Regions from separate parts of the Homo sapiens genome. Here region 2 is linked to region 1. The links come from fine-mapping of genetic effects on gene expression. Tissue or cell type: thyroid. Region 1 holds a variant in brackets; the other region holds the start of a gene. All regions are shown on one strand. Distances are between the middles of the regions.

Evidence for each region. PIP is the estimated chance that this variant, and not a neighbour inherited with it, causes the effect.
Region 2: it holds the start of GOLGA6L7, and the variant in region 1 is fine-mapped to the expression of GOLGA6L7 in thyroid (GTEx, PIP 0.99).

The regions. Positions count from the first base shown.
Region 1 is chr15:28,785,015-28,793,119 of GRCh38, reverse strand. It overlaps the pseudogene LOC100289656 and the pseudogene PDCD6IPP2. Among named protein-coding and RNA genes, the nearest start is that of GOLGA6L7, 60 kb to the left of the region's middle. The variant C/T (reference allele first, on the strand shown) is at 4,357.
Region 2 is chr15:28,845,122-28,853,226 of GRCh38, reverse strand. GOLGA6L7 (golgin A6 family like 7) reads left to right here and starts at 4,583. Exons shown (of 9, transcript NM_001365371.2): 1 at 4,583-4,728; 2 at 6,035-6,163; 3 at 6,978-7,007; 4 at 7,277-7,327; 5 at 7,416-7,509; 6 at 7,592-7,698. The coding sequence starts at 4,678. It also overlaps the pseudogene PDCD6IPP2. RefSeq lists a silencer at 4,315-4,449.

The sequences.
Region 1 (8,105 bases):
ACATGGCTAATGACTGGTAGAGCTGGCATGAAATGTATCAGTCATATTAGGAGGGCATCACACATCCCCATGTAAGATTCAATAGAACTAGGTGCTCACCATATTCTTTCACCTTCCTTGACTACATTAGGACCAATCTGACATTACCAAGAGAAATTAAAATCTACAAAGCATGATCAAAAGCTCAGGTCCACAATTAAGCATGAGAATATACAGAAAACACGGCTAGGACTTTTGGTAAACACCTGGGCAATTTTCACAAGGAAAGGCATGAAAGGGTGCGTGCCCTGGTATGAGCGCCTGAATACAAGGGCCACAACCCAGTCAACCTGGAAATGTCGCCTTTAACTATCATCTCCTCCCTCAAACTCATCATTGTTTCGTCATCATGTCTTACTTGATTCCCTAAGGAGTATTCTCAACCAGAAAAATATTTTTCACGATAATCCTCTCAACTGATAGATACAAATCTATCTTCTCCAAGTTCGAGCAGCAAGTCAATCTTCTGAAGACCTCAATATCCCCTGCACAAATTCATCAAGGGTCCAAATCAAGAGAACTGAGAGGACCTCACTCTAGAGTATAAAAAATTATGGCAAACGTGAGAGCCTCCCCACTCAATTATTCGATGTCCACAGTAAACTGGGGACAAACCTAACCATAACACTGGGACAAGGCACACTTCACAGCACACAATTTCAGGGTATATATCTAACTGTTAGGTTCGTGAAGAATCTTCCCCTTCTACTTTAGGCACTTCTAGACAGTTGGAATTTATTTTTAAACAACAGAACATACATCACTTTTTGGGGGTTAACTTCAAGGATTTTCCTACTGAAAATGAGAAACTTCAGTATCCAGTCACTAACTTTTGTATTCATGAATCTCACAAAAAAAAAAAAATCAAGAAAAGGAAGGAATTTAACCAACTTTCATATTACTCAGAAAAGTCACCAATGAAAACAACAATATCATAGGCTTCTTCATAACTGTGCTAATATTGGTGGGCAACACTGGTCATATAATTTATGGTTGACTAACTCAACAGTTTCATGTCATTTAAGAACAATAAAGATAAACTCACAAGTATTTTCAATAAAACAGAGAAAAGAAATACCTCAAGTTCCACCAGTGCTGCAGTGACTGCGTCAGTTGCAAGAGCACCCGCCTGCAGCTTTTCAATTGCCTATGAAACCAAGGGGAGAGATTATTCATTGCAAAATCACAACTTCCCAAACTTTCCAAAAGCTTAAAGAAGTATGGGAGACACTTAGATTAATAAAAATTGACCACTAGTTCCATTCCATACTTTAAGACATAAACTACTCAGATTAAAAACAAGCAAGTGTTTATATTCAGGTTAATTGGTAATATGGCTCACTTAATATTATTCAAATTAAAACAATAACATCTAGCTATTAAATGAAAAGTACAAGGAATTTAGTAAGCTTAATTCATTGTAAGGCTATTCAAAATAGCCACAGAAATTGTATGACCCAGTTTGGTTCAAATATCCTGACAATTCGTATTTTATATAGATAACTAAATCTCAAACGAATCATTTCTCCTCCCCGTTAATACTCTCCATACCTAAAAAGAAGTGACTCTGAGTCACAGGGGCGCCGGAATCTGAGGATAAAAGCACACATTTGACAAAAACATTTTGGATACTATAATGTAAATTCTAAATCAAGATGTAACATATTATTTTGTAATATAAACTACACAGAATAAAGGTCTATAAAATCACCTGGCCTTGAGCATAAATTAGGAGAGGAAAAGAGAGAGAAGGAAAAGTCATTTATAAATGATTTATTAACATTTCAATTTAGTCAACAAAGAGAAAGCTCAAAAACTAAGAACTGTATTCCTAATTAAACTTTTAAGAAGTGTATTCATTGGAAATATTAAAGAGGCTAAATATACAATTCAAATGTATTAAATTTCTAAGACTATAGTTACATAAAATTTATTTTCAGATGATAGAAAAATTTCACACTTTGAAAAATAAGAAAAAATATAAAACAGCTTAGAGAACTTTTAGCTTTATTGTTATAAATTTCAAAAGAACAAAATCCCTGTAACAAAATATTCTTATTTATAGGGCTTCATTCATAAGAAAAAGCTTGAATCTCTGATAAAGTATAATCTTTTTAATGTTATGTAAATATCAACGAAAAGAGCAGAGAGAGACGCATATTTACTCGATATACAATATTCAACTAGATCCTATTTGCATAAAAAGTAATGGAAGGTTTGCCTACAAGACTAGTAAGAATCAAAATAAAAAACATTTCTTCTGAGTCCATTCCTGTCCCCACATTAAATATTCAACAGTTTAGCAAAACCTCAAAAACCAATGGGAAAAAAGCACAACTGAGTACAAGGGCAAAGCTGAACTCTGGAATGACAATGAACTTGCTATGATACAAACTACGTGATGAAAAACAGAATGAAAAAGTATAGGACAATCTCTCTTAAAAAAGCACCCATTTTAATTTTTTTATTTATTTTTTTCCCTTCATGGAAAAACACACTGACTGCCTTCAAGCTGTTTTCTCTATCCTTCTGTCTACAGAAGTTCAACATCGTTGCAAAGATTAAAAGAGATATGATTGTGTGCCCACAATTACAAAAATACAGACTTTAATCTGGGACGTGGGGAAAGAGCTAAGCATCATGTGGAGAAAGACACAAAACAACACAAAACGATCCCCTACAAAAACAAGCAAAATAATTTTGTAGTCCAAACCGGAAGACTGCCCTAGAAATGAAACTTTTAAATGTTGAATTTCTTTTTTTTTTTTTTTTTTTTGGAGTTGCATACATTTTTTTAATCCAAAGAAGTCAGCCTCCTAAGTATTGCTTAAACAGGTTTATCAGAATTAAGTAGGCACGACACTCATACTTTCAGAAAAGCATTTGCAGCCAGGGGAGTAACGTGGCACTCACCAGCATGATATCTGTTTTGCCAACTTGCTGAGGAACGAGTAACCTGAAATGAAGAAGCGAGAATCTCATCCTCAGCCCCCCAACAGCTTCCTCAGCTTCTTTTTATTCTGAGTCACTCCCTGAAACAGTCGCTGCATCTAAGACCAGCCTCGGGCTAAACCCAGCTGGCCTGAAGGCTCAACTCACATCAAACAGAGCTGGGAGTTGCTTTTGCGTGTGTCCGCAGTTTGAAGTGTCCTCTCCGAAGGTGAAGTGGAGGAAGCAGGTGCGCTCTGGGATGAAGTGCAGGGAGGCAAACTCTGGCTGGGTTCCTGTAAACATCCATGGCAGTTGCAAATAATGAGAAGCCGAGGCCAGGCCATCGGTGTGACGCTGCAGGCAGATGAGGTCTTGGGACGCCCCTTGCGTTCCCCCTTCTGTGGGAGCAGGTGCCTTCCCAATCTCAGCACTCAGTCCCAATCTCTCTTCCACTCTCCTGGGTCCAAACAGGAACCTCTCTGTTGGCACGAAGCTTTTGAGGGTAGCAGGCAGGCCTCGGAGGCAGGGGAGGGTCTCCTCCTGGGGAACCATCCCCGTCCAGATGGTGCCCCCAACCAGCTGCTGCGGCGCCATGATCTGGGCGGCTGGTCCAGGGCGTGGGTTGCGGATCGTGGAGGGAAGAGGGGAACGGCAGTCGAGACCCTACTCCAAGTACCCATCAAAGACGTCGAGCTCCGAGTCAGCATCGTAAAGGCCCGAGCCGGGGTCGGAGAGCACGCCGAGGTCCACGAGCGCCTGGTCCATGTCCTCGAACAGGAAGACGAGGCCCACGTTGAGGACGATGTACTCCATGAGGAAGGCGTAGTACAGGATCAGCACATTGACGAAGAACAGGCCCACGTAGAACATAGAGGGCAGCAGCGGCGGCGGCACGTAGGGGACCAGGGGGCCCAGTGCGTCCAGGTGGGCCGCGACCCGGGCGCCGAGCATGCAGCCGGTGGCAAGGGCGGCGGCGGCCCGGCGATCCCGGCGAACTCAGCCGCTGTGGCGCCCGGGCCGCCGGCGAGGGCACAGCGCAGCCATCCAGGGGTACCCTGGAGCCCGACAGAAGCAGGGCCGGGCTCCAGATGTCCCCTGGCAAATGCGCCCCGACCCCCGAAATGCGCCGGGCGGGTCACCGCACCCCGAGATGTGCCCCCAAGGCTCTTTCGACCGCCCTGAAGTGGCGGGCCCCCCTGAAGTGGCCGGCGGCTGCCCGGCTCCCTCGAGGCGCCTCCCTGGCGCTCGCAGGGCCTCGCAGAGCCGGCGGGGATCCCACCGCGGCTCAGTGTCTAGGGCCGGTCCCGGCAGCCCTCTCTCCCGCCCGGCCCCGCAGGTCCTAGCGTCGCCCTCCCCCCCGCGCCCCTGCAGGCCCAGCACCCATGG[C/T]TGCGGCCGCGGCGTCGCCCTCCGAGTCGCGCTCAGAGCCACTGCTTTATGTTCAAAACTGAAAAGCATAGATGATACACATTGCGTTGATACTCTCTGACAAGCTCGTTTGCATACATGTTTATATTCCTTGGCTTTGGATTCAGAATGATAAACTGCACCTATAGTAGAAAATAAAATCCAGTTGTTAATTGTTAAAATATCAAGAGACCTTGCTTATGTTATATAAATACTCCAATAAACTGATGCTGTCCTAGTAAAAAACAAAACTATTGCCCTAACTGTATGGAGTTTTATGATTTCTTTCTCCAATGTAAGCCTTTTTAATACCATGCCTTATCTCCGTTTTCAAAAGCTCTTTTCCTGCCAAAAGCCCTAAAAATAGCTCATGTCCCCAGAGGCTTCACCAAGGTCACCTCCCCTCTTCTTTTCAAGAAGCTTTTTCCAAATCAGGAGTTCTTTTGATCTGGAGCTAACAACCCAGAAGGTGTCAGGGACAGGGTCCCTCCAGGTTCCTCTCTGCTGAAAGCCCCTGCCATTTGGGAAGTTACTGTTTCAAATCCAGAATTCATAAGAATAATTCAGAAAGCTGGATTGCTTCTGAACAACATTGGAAGTTGAGGCATCTTACATCTCACATGTCCACAACCACCACCAATTGCACCATTCCTAACCAAACACTTCACGTCCTCTCAATAAAGTTGCTAGATTAGTCTCATTTCTTAAAAAGCTGTTTTTTGACAAAATGGGAGAAAATTTTCGCAACCTACTCATCTCACAAAGGACTAATATCCAGAATCTACAATGAACTCCAACAAATTTACAAGAAAAATACAAGCAACCCCATCAAAAAGTGGGCAAAGGATATGAACAGACACTTCTCAAAAGAAGACATTTATGCAGCCAAAAAGCACATGAAGAAATGCTCATCATCACTGGCCATCAGAGAAATGCAAATCAAAACCACAATGAGATACCATCTCACACCAGTTAGAATGGCGATCATTAAAAAGTCAGGAAACAACAGGTGCTGGAGAGGATGTGGAGAAATAGGAACACTTTTACACTGTTGGTGGGACTGTAAACTAGTTCAACCACTGTGGAAGTCAGTGTGTCTAGATCCTCAGGGATCTAGAACTAGAAATACCATTTGACCCAGCCATCCCATTACTGGGTATATACCCAAAGGACTATAAATCATGCTGCTATAAAGACACATGCACACATATGTTTATTGCGGCATTATTCACAATAGCAAAGACTTGGAACCAACCCAAATGTCTAACAATGATAGACTGGATTAAGAAAAGGTGGCATATATACACCAACGAATGCTATGCAGCCATAAAAAAATGATGAGTTCACGTCCTTTGTAGGGACATGGATGAAACTGGAAACCATCATTCTCAGCAAACTATCGCAAGGACAAAAAAACAAACACCGCATGTTCTCACTCATAGGTGGGAATTGAAGAATGAGAACACATAGACACAGGAAGGGGAACATCACACACCGGGGACTGTTGTGGGGTGGGGGGAGGGGGAGGGATAGCATTAGGAGGTATACCTAATGCTAAATGACAAGTGAATGGGTGCAGCACACCAACATGGCACATGTATACATATGGAACTAACCTGTACTTTGTGCACATCTACCCTAAAACTTAAAGTATAAGAATAATAAAATTTTTTTAAAAAGTTGCTTTTTGGTAGTTTATATGTAACACTGTAGTTCTATATGTACTTGCAAATAGCTATAGTACCAGTAAAAAATGTGATAAAATGAAACTCACATATGCCAAAAATACTTTGATTTAGCGCTTCATTAAGTGCATGATTATCTGCATCTTTTGATTTACCTATCTTTACAATTTTCAGCTGAGATACTTAGAGGTCACATAGTAAATTAAGGTTTTCTTTTTTTAAAATAATCTCCATCTTTCTAAATTTGGTGAGTCCAGTAAGTTATTTTTGAGATGTTGAAATCTGTGGCTTTGTTCTAAACTTGAGCACAGAAATCATGCCACTTACGAAATATGCTTTGTCTTCCAACATCAGAGTGTCTGGTAGAAGGTGACTGTTCTTGGAATTTAAAAAATCTTAACAGGAAAAGACAAGAATCTGGACACTTTTTCTGTTTCTGATAATATGGCTGAGTAGGTAGACATGCTGGCTAGTCCTTGCATAGATCAAGACATACTTGAACTTGCCAAAAAAAATAAAAAATCCAGAGTCTCTAAGAATGAAGATGAAGTGAAAATCAGAAGGGCTATTGAGAGAGTAATGGGGAAGCAGCCCCAGTTATCAAGGGACGTGTGCATGTGTTCATTAAAAAGTTTCAGATGTAAAAAAAGTTGAGAAAAATAATGTAACTGCCCTACATATACACATCATCAACAATTTTTCATTCATGGCATGGACAGTTTTTTGTTTTTGTTGGTTTTTTGTTGTTTGTTTTTAAAGGTGGGATTTTGCTGTGGTCGCCCAGGCTGGAGTGCAGTGTCATGATCTTGGCTCACTGCAAATTCTGCCTCTCAGGTTCAAGCGATTCTCCTGCCTCAGCCTCCCAAGTAGCTGGGATTACAGGCACCCGGCACCACATCCGGCTAACTGTTGTATTTTTAGTAGAGATGATGTTTCACCACGTTGGCCAGGCTGGTCTTGAACTCCTGACCTCAGGTGATCCACCTGCCTCAGTCTCCCAAAGTGCTGGGATTACAGGCGTGAGCCACCACACCTGGCCACAGCCAGTTTTGTTTCATTTATATTCCCACTTCATTTATATGCATTCCTTCTTCCTCTGAATTATTTTGAAGTAAAATCTATACATCATATCATTTTTTAATTACCGTATATGTATCTGCAGAAGACAAGGAATTTTTAAAAATAAATATATTCACAATGCCATTAAATACCAAAAAAATTAATATTCTGAAAATAGCCACAAATCCAGAGTTCACATTTTCTTGACTTTCTCATAGGTGATTTTTCTTCTAGGTTTTCTATTTAATCAGGTAACTGTTTGCTCATATTTACATTCCTTACTGAACAATGTCTAAACTTAAACTGACATAAAACGCACATGATCTTCTGACCAAATGCTTAGTGCAAGAAAAAACTTCAAACTGCAAGACGAGTCCCTCCAAATATAGAAAGGACCAGTATTTTAGGAGGTATGTTAACTAAAATGTGGCAATGTAAGGAGCAAAACAGGAAGAACCTTTAAGTCCTAAACTTACAAGTCAATTTCCTAGTCAGTTTCCATGGTCCTTCCACAACAACCTCTGGCATCTGTATTCTCTACAATGGAGGTAACAATAGTAGCTATTTCAGAGCAGGAAAAGGCTTAGAGCAGTGCTGCAAGAGGGTCGTGGCTATATAAAGTTTAGCTATTTGTATATTGTAACAAACCCCCTTTTTTTTTTTTTTTGTCAATAATAGATTTCTTTTGGAAAAGTAGCAGCCTCCTGTCTGGGGACAACTGCAGTTCCACTAAGTGAACATTGGTGTCTGCTCGCCTTTGCCTCTATTTCTCTCAATAATATACTGTCAAGCTGTTCCTTGATTTAGCAATTTTATGTACTTTCTTTTTCTTCTTTTTTTTTTTTCCTGTTTTCCTGAGACACAGTCCCGCTCTATCGCCCAGTTTGGACTGCAGCAGCGCCAACATGGCTCACTGCCACCTCACCCCCACCCCTCTCCGGCTCAAGCAATCCTCCTACATCAGCCTTCAGAGTAGCTGGGACTACC
Region 2 (8,105 bases), 60 kb before region 1:
GAAAAAGGAATTCTAAATGTGTTTATGCCTGGTAACTTAACCTTAAAACACACAGAACAAAGCTTAACAAACGAAAAAAAGAAATAAGTTGACGATGATTGTGGGAAAGTTTCATATCTGTGTCTCAGCCACTGAAAAATAGACAAACATCAGTAAGGAAATAGAATCTTTAAAGGATGCATTTAACACGCTCCGTCTAATTGAGATACGTGGTACACTACGCTCAACATGCAGAATACATATCCTTTTCAAGTGCAGAAGCAATATTTATAAAAATTAATCATATTTTTAATCATTGAGAAGACACAAATTCCAAAGAGTTTTAGTTATACAAATATTTAATCACAGTGGAAGTGTAAGTTTGGAAATTAAGCAAAACATTTTTAGTATGGTAAAGGGATGAATAAAATCAAAGTTTGCTTTTTTGAAACACTGATAAAATTGATGGCCCCCAGCAAGATTGATTAACAAAACAGACAAAAGGCACAAATTCTAACCGCACACCTTATAAGTATTAAAAAGATAAATGAATAATAGAACAACTTTGAAATTTTAGATAAAATGAACAAATTGATTCAGCAAACACAGGTTACCGAAATGAATATTCATATATATGTAATTGAACCTGTAATTAAACACCTTATAAAGAAAACTACAGTCTCACATGGCTTAATAAGTGAATTCTTTCCAAATGCTTAAGGAAGAAATAGCACACATCTTACATAAACTCTGTCAGAAATAGGAGAAGAAACATTTCTCAAATTGTCTAACCAGCATAGCTTTAATACTTCATATTAAAACCTCACAAGTCTGGGTGCAGTGGCTCACGCCTGTAATCCCAGCACTTTGGGAGGCTGAGGCGGGTGGATCACGAGGTCAGGAGATCGAGACCATCCTGGCTAACACGGTGAAACCCCGTCTCTACTAAAAAAATACAATAAATTAGCCAGGGGTGGTGGTGGGCGCCTATAGTCCCAACTACTCGGGAGGCTGAAGCAGGAGAATGGCGTGAACCCGGAAGGCGGAGCTTGCAATGAGCCGAGATCATGCCACTGCATTCCAGCCTGGACAACAGGGCGAGACTCCGTGGCAAAAAAAAAAAAAAAAAAAAAAAAAACACACAGAAAAACTTAGACTCCACTTTCTCTTGTGAACGTAAGTACAAAACTACCAAATGAACTAGGAGCAAACCCATCTCAACCATATATAATATGGTATTAATCATTTATCACAACAAAGTTGATTTAATTCCAAAATGCAATGTTCAACATTCAAAAGCCAATCACTGTTAAGTTACCTTATCAACATAAAAAGATAAGAAAAAACACTGCTCAATCAAGAAAGAAAAAAGCAATTGATACAATTCAGTACCTATTCATAAATCTTAAAACCTGTGTAACAGAGAGGAAGCAACATGTGAGTTAAACACTCCCCCAGCTGAGAATAGTGACATAACTTATTTGCAGCCAAAAGATGAAAATTGCAGGCCAGGCGCAGTGGCTCATGCCTCTAATTCCAGCACTTTGGGAGGCAGAGGTGGGCGGATCACAAGGTCTGGAGTTCAAAACCAGCCTGGCCAACATGGTGAAATCTCGTCTCTACTAAAAATACAAATAGAAATGAGTCGGGCGTGGTGTCATGCGCCTGTATTCCTAGCTATTAGGGAGGCTGAGGTAGGAGAATCACTTGAACCATGGAGGCGGACATTATGACAGTGAGCCGAGATTGTGCCACTGCACTCCAGCCTGGCAACAGAGCAAGACTGCGTTTCAAAAAAAAAAAAAAAAAAAAGGATGAAAATTGAATTGCAGTATAATTTTACAACTTTTGAGAAATCTGTGTTTTTCAGCTAAAAAGAGACAAACTCAGCCTTTTGACCTTTCATCTTTCCCTCCTTGGAAGGCAATCCAAGGCCTGGAAAAACAGCAGCCACATTGTGACCACAAGAATAGAAACCAGGCTAAGGAAGTATCAGGAAACTGAAAAGAACCCTGGACTGCCTTCCTCTGCACGTTTTAAGTGACAAAAATGAAATCTATATTTCTTTAAGTCACTGAATCAGATTTATTCTTTCTGTGGCTACATGTAGCCCTAAATGATGTATTAAATACTAAAATAAATACTAAAATACACACTAAAATACTAAAATTTTGGTCTTGACTCCTGATCTCAGGTGATATGCCCATCTCAGCCTACCAATGTGCTGGGATGACAGGCATGAGCCACCACACCCACCTCAAAAGCTTTGTGTTTTAAAATATATTAGACATATCTCTAGTTTAAAAAAAAAAAAAACTTAACAATAATGTAGGAGAATAAGAGAAACTTTTTCCAAAAAAGAGAAATCACTGTGATTATTTTATCTTATTGGAATGTTGGATAATATAATCTGCTTTACTAATCATTAAGCACGCTGTAAATTTTCCATTACAACAGGATTTGTACCTCAACTAAGGTGATAAAGTTTTAAAGTTTAGAAAGTGAGTCCCTCTCCCTCTCCCTCTCCCTCTCCCTCTCCCCACGGTCTCCCTCTCCCTCTCCCCACGGTCTCCCTCTCCCTCTCCCTCTCCCCACGGTCTCCCTCTCCCTCTCTTTCCACGGTCTCCCTCTGATGCTGTGCCGAAGCTGGACTGTACTGCTGCCATCTCGGCTCACTGCAACCTCCCTGCCTGATTCTCCTGCCTCAGCCTGCCGAGTGCCTGCGATTGCAGGCGCGCGCCGCCACGCCTGACTGGTTTTCGTATTTTTTTGGTGGAGACGGGGTTTCGCTGTGTTGGCCGGGCTGGTCTCCAGCTCCTAACCGCGAGTGATCTGCCAGCCTCGGCCTCCCGAGGTGCCGGGATTGCAGACGGAGTCTGGTTCACTCAGCGCTCAATGGTGCCCAGGCTGGAGTGCAGTGGCGTGATCTCGGCTCGCTACAACCTCCACCTCCCAGCCGCCTGCCTTGGCCCCCCAAAGTGCCGAGATTGCAGCCTCTGCCCGGCTGCCACCCCGTCTGGGAAGTGAGGAGCGTCTCTGCCTGGCCGCCCATCGTCTGGGAAGTGAGGAGCGTCTCTGCCTGGCTGCCCATCGTCTGGGATGTGAGGAGCCCCTCTGCCTGGCTGCCCAGTCTGGAAAATGAGGAGCGCCTCTTCCCGGCCGCCATCCCATCTAGGAAGTGAGGAGCGCCTCTGCCCGGCCGCCCATCGTCTGAGATGTGGGGAGCGCCTCTGCCCCGCCACCCCGTCTGGGATGTGAGGAGCGCCTCTACCCGGCCGCGACCCCGCCTGGAAGGTGAGGAGCGTCTCTGCCCGGCCGCCCCGTCTGAGAAGTGAGGAGACCCTCCGCCTGGCAACCGCCCCATCTGAGAAGTGAGGAGCCCCTCCACCCGGCAGCCGCCCCGTCAGAGAAGTGAGGAGCCCCTCCGCCCGGCAGCCACCCCGTCTGGGAAGTGAGGAGCGTCTCCGCCCGGCAGCCACCCCGTCCGGGAGGGAGGTGGGGGTCAACCCCCGCCCGGCCAGCCGCCCCGTCCGGGAGGGAGGTGGGGGGGTCAGCCCCCCGCCTGGCCAGCCGCCCCGTCCGGGAGGTGAGGGGCGCCTCTGCCCGGCCGCCCCTACTGGGAAGTGAGGAGCCCCTCTGCCCGGCCAGCCACCCCGTCCGGGAGGGAGGTGGGGGGGTCAGCCCCCCGCCCAGCCAGTCGCCCCGTCCGGGAGGTGAGGGGCGCCTCTGCCCGGCTGCCCCTACTGGGAAGTGAGGAGCCCCTCTGCCTGGCCGCCACCCCGTCTGGGAGGTGTGCCCAGCAGCTCATTGAGAATGGGCCATGATGACAATGGCGGTTTTGTAGAATAGAAAGGGGGGAAAGGTGGGGAAAAGATTGAGAGGTTGGATGGTTGCCGTGTCTGTGTAGAGGGAGGTAGACATGGGAGACTTCTCATTTTGTTCTGTACTAAGAAAAATTATTCTGCCTTGGGATCCTGTTGATCTGTGACCTTACCCCCAACCCTGTGCTCTCTGAAACATGTGCTGTGTCCACTCAGGGTTAAATGGATTAAGGGCGGTGCAAGATGTGCTTTGTTAAACAGATGTTTGAAGGCAGCATGCTCGTTAAAAGTCATCACCACTCTCTAATCTCAAGTACCCCGGGACACAAACACTGCAGAAGGCCGTAGGGTCCTCTGCCTAGGAAAACCAGAGACCTTTGTTCACTTGTTTATCTGCTGACCTTCCCTCCACTATTGTCCTATGACCCTGCCAAATCCCCCTCTGCGAGAAACACCCAATGATCAATTAAAAAAAACAAAACAAAACAAAACAAAAAAAAACATTATATTATCGACTATACCTTAAATTATAATAAAAAGTTATATATGTAAAAAAAAAAAAAAGTAAGTGAAAGCCAGCCCCGCCCCTCTCCCAGAGTGGGCGGGGACAGCAGTTCCATGGGAGGCTTTCCTTGTGACATCACAGGACCTTCATGACCCGCAGCTGCCTGGCCCCGCCTCCTTTCCCTTTCATCTTTCTCATTGACCAATGGGCTTGGAGCATTAAGGCCACGCCCCTTTTCCGCATTCTAGTGCAGCCCCGGTGACGCCTCCTGTGGCTCAGTCACATAGCTGTGTGGTACGTGACTGGAGGCATATCACTGTCCTCGCCTGGATCACGCCAATGTGACCCCAACCCCACCACCCTCCCCACCCCATGATGTCCGAAAAAACCCAACAAAGAAAATTGGCTGGGACCAAGAAAAAGGTAAAACGCATCGGATTGCAGCACCCCAACCCCAACCCAGCCCCAGGTCCCCTCTGATGGCAGAACAGCTGCCAGAATCCGTGTCACTCCAGAGGCACGCAGGGCCGGGCCCCCCCCAGTGCCTCTGGGCTCCCCCAACCAAAATCTTGTGTCAGCCCCAACCCCTCAGCAGTCCTGCCCCTGCCCTCACCGGTCACCCCAGGGTGACTTTCAGCCGGTGACTCGTGGGGCTCCCTGCTTTGTACTCTGCCCTCACCTCCTATTGTCCAAAAATGGATCTCCCTGGGCCCTTCGGGCTCACGTTCCCAAGGAACCGGATGCCCCAGCACCTGCCCTCACCAGTCACCCCAGGGTGACTTTGGGCAGGTGACTCCTGGGGCTCCCCACTCCATACTCGGCCCTCACCTACCGCTGCCCCAAGCCTGACTTCCCTGGGCTCTTTGGGCTCACGTCTCCAAGTACCTGGGTCCCAACCCTGTGACCCCATGCCAATCTCAAAGAGGCAACTTGGGCACAGCACTGATGGGATAATGGGTTTGGTTTGGTTTTCTCCCAGGCTTCTACTCTCCAGAGAGACTTTAACAGTTTTTTCTAAGTTCTCCACTTCATATTTGAATTCTCCATGGTTCTGGGACCAGAGTGCCCATCAGTCAGTGATCTTTGAAGTGAGATTTGCTCATCTTCTGTGCAAGAGATCTTGGGAAACTGGACTTGACAACTTGAATCTTCCTCATCTCATCTCAACCTGGGGTACTTTGAGTGCCACAGGATACATATGGGGCATCTTTCTGAAGCATCAGTTTTCCTTGATTCTCGTGGGAGACACAAAACATTAATGTTCTTAGGGATGATAGTCACATAGATTTCAAAGAGTATACAAGACTTCTCTCTGAAATGCAGCTTGGGTTGTCCTCTTTCTGTTTAATTCCCACATTTAACAGAAAGGCTGCCTTCTGCCCTGAGGATACATGACTCTAAGAGGATGTACGACTGTAAACCACACAGTGTACACCTTCCTGCCTACTTTTTACTTTTCTACCTCTGCCTCTGGTTTTGGTCTCTGGCAGCTGCTGATTTGTGGCAACACCCCAGAGCTCAGAGTCAGAAGACTGAGTTTCAGTTCCATTATTGCCTTTCTTTTAGCCATGGTATCAATCCCTCTCAGTCACTAAGTGATTGCGACAACACCTCGTACAGTCGTTGGTGGCATTAAGTCAGATCGTCTATGAGAGTATTTTGTATAAACTGTAAAGTGACTGTAGGAGCTTGTAGTTCTCATGAGTATCACTGCTCCTCTTTTCCACAGTTTACAGACTATCATCAGTGGAACAGTGCTGGTGTTGGTACCGGAGCAACCGACACCAAAAAGAAGAAAATAAATCATGGCGCTAACCCTGAGACAACCACTTCGGGGGGCTGCCACTCGCCTGAGGATGTGAGTCTTGGCTGGCCGGTCTCCTGAGGACAAGGGGCACAAGGGGGAGGTCGAGGGTAACTGTTAAGATTGTGGAAGGAAGAACTGCTGGGTACTGGCTAAGAATTCTGGGTTTGAGTCCTACTTCTCTCTCCAACTGCGAGGGACACGGTTTAGGGAAAATTGCTCGAGCTCTTTGGGCCTCTCTTTTCACATCTGTAAAATGGGGATGGTAATGTTTTACTTACATGTGTGAAGCTTAAATCAGATTTGTTGCTGTTGTTTTTGTGTTAATCCCTAGTCCAGGGCCTGCTGTAAGCTCCCCTCCTCTTTGGGCTTCCGTTTCCTGAGGAGGTAGAGTTAGAGTATCAGAGGTTCTGTTTGCTCTGAGAGTCTGAGATTTAAAGATTCACTAGAATGGAAACCTTGGGGCCAAGGGCTCCTGTCTGCCTTTTCCGTCCTATATCCCAGCAGTGAAGAACCGTCCCCGGCCCCTATGTGCTTGCTCAATGCTTGTTGAATGAACACATCTTTCTCCATCACAAGCTGGCAGAAGGGTGGGCTTTTCTCACACTCTTATGTCGGAAGGTTTATGTTACTGTCTTTTCCAGAGAATCTAGTTTCAGACTTTCAGTTCTGTGGCTGTGGGCAAAAGCCAACAAAGACCCAAATCCTTTTTCTTTGGGCGTTAAGGAAAGTTGACCAGTTTGTGTTCCCATTGGGTCTGAGAACTTTGCCCTTAAAATCCATTCCTGACCCCTGCCTACCGCTTCCTGGCCTGGGGAATAGAGTCGAGGGACCACCCTCAGTCACCTTCCTTTGACTCTCCCCACAGAAACAACAGAACCGAGCTCAGCTGAAAGAGGTAACATGGTTTCTTTCTTTGCTCACGACATGACCGCTGGGTTTGGGGGGCACTCAGATGTAGAGGCCCCAGTCTCGTCTCGCCTACTCCCAGCTTGGGGAGGAAGGCTCACCTCCCAGCTTCCACCCCATCCCCACAGGGTCCCTGATAACCTGGTCCCATGGGTGGGCCTGTCCTGGGACAGTGGGGCCATTCTGGGGGCATGTCTCTTGCTGTGCCATCTCTGCCTCCCTCTAGTAAGAGCTCTGTCTTCCTCTTCTTTTCTATAGGAAAATAAGGCAAGCCACCAACATCAGCAAGCCCTAAGGAGGCAGCTAGAGGTGAGTGGAGGGTGTGAAGTTCCCTCCTGTCCTCTGGAGAAGGTTTCTTTGCTTCTCTTTCAGCACTTGCTTTTCTTGTCTCCCAAAGGCCCAGGATCATACCATACGAATCCTTATGTGTCAGAAAACTGAACTGGAGACAGCGCTCCATGACAGCCAGGATGCTGCCAGGAAATTTGAAGGTGGGAATCTGGGCACCCCGTCATCCTTCAACCTGGCACTTTCACAGGCCTTTGGGCTGCAGCTCAACCTCTCTCATTCCAGAAGATTCCAAGGATCTGGCAGCCCGCCTGCATCATTCCTGGCACTTTGCAGGAGAGTTACAGCGGGCTCTCTCTGCTATGTCCGCAGAGCACGAGAGGGCGGACAAGGTGAGTCCAACCACCTACCCGGTCCCCTGGGAGCCCAGCTTCGCAGATGGAGGAATGAGCCTAAAGGTCCCTTCTGCAGGATGCAGTGTCCTGCCCAGAAGACAGCATGGGCCATTTCTTGCTGCTTTTGTGCGTGGTTGTTAGAGGCAGGTTGGGGCTGAGTCAGCTGCTGTGGGTGAGTTGCGGGGCGCTGTGGGGAGCGAGCACTGGACACAGAGCTCGGAGGCCAAGTGCCCACCCCACCCATACTTGGCTGTGGCCTTGGTCAAATCCTAGGCGGAGTTGAGGGTACTTGTACCATGAAGGTACAGAAGAGTATCTTTAGTATGTTACCATTTGTGTAGAGAGAGGGAACACATGTACGTGTGTGTGTGTGTGTGTGTGTGTGTGTGTGTGTGTGTGTACGT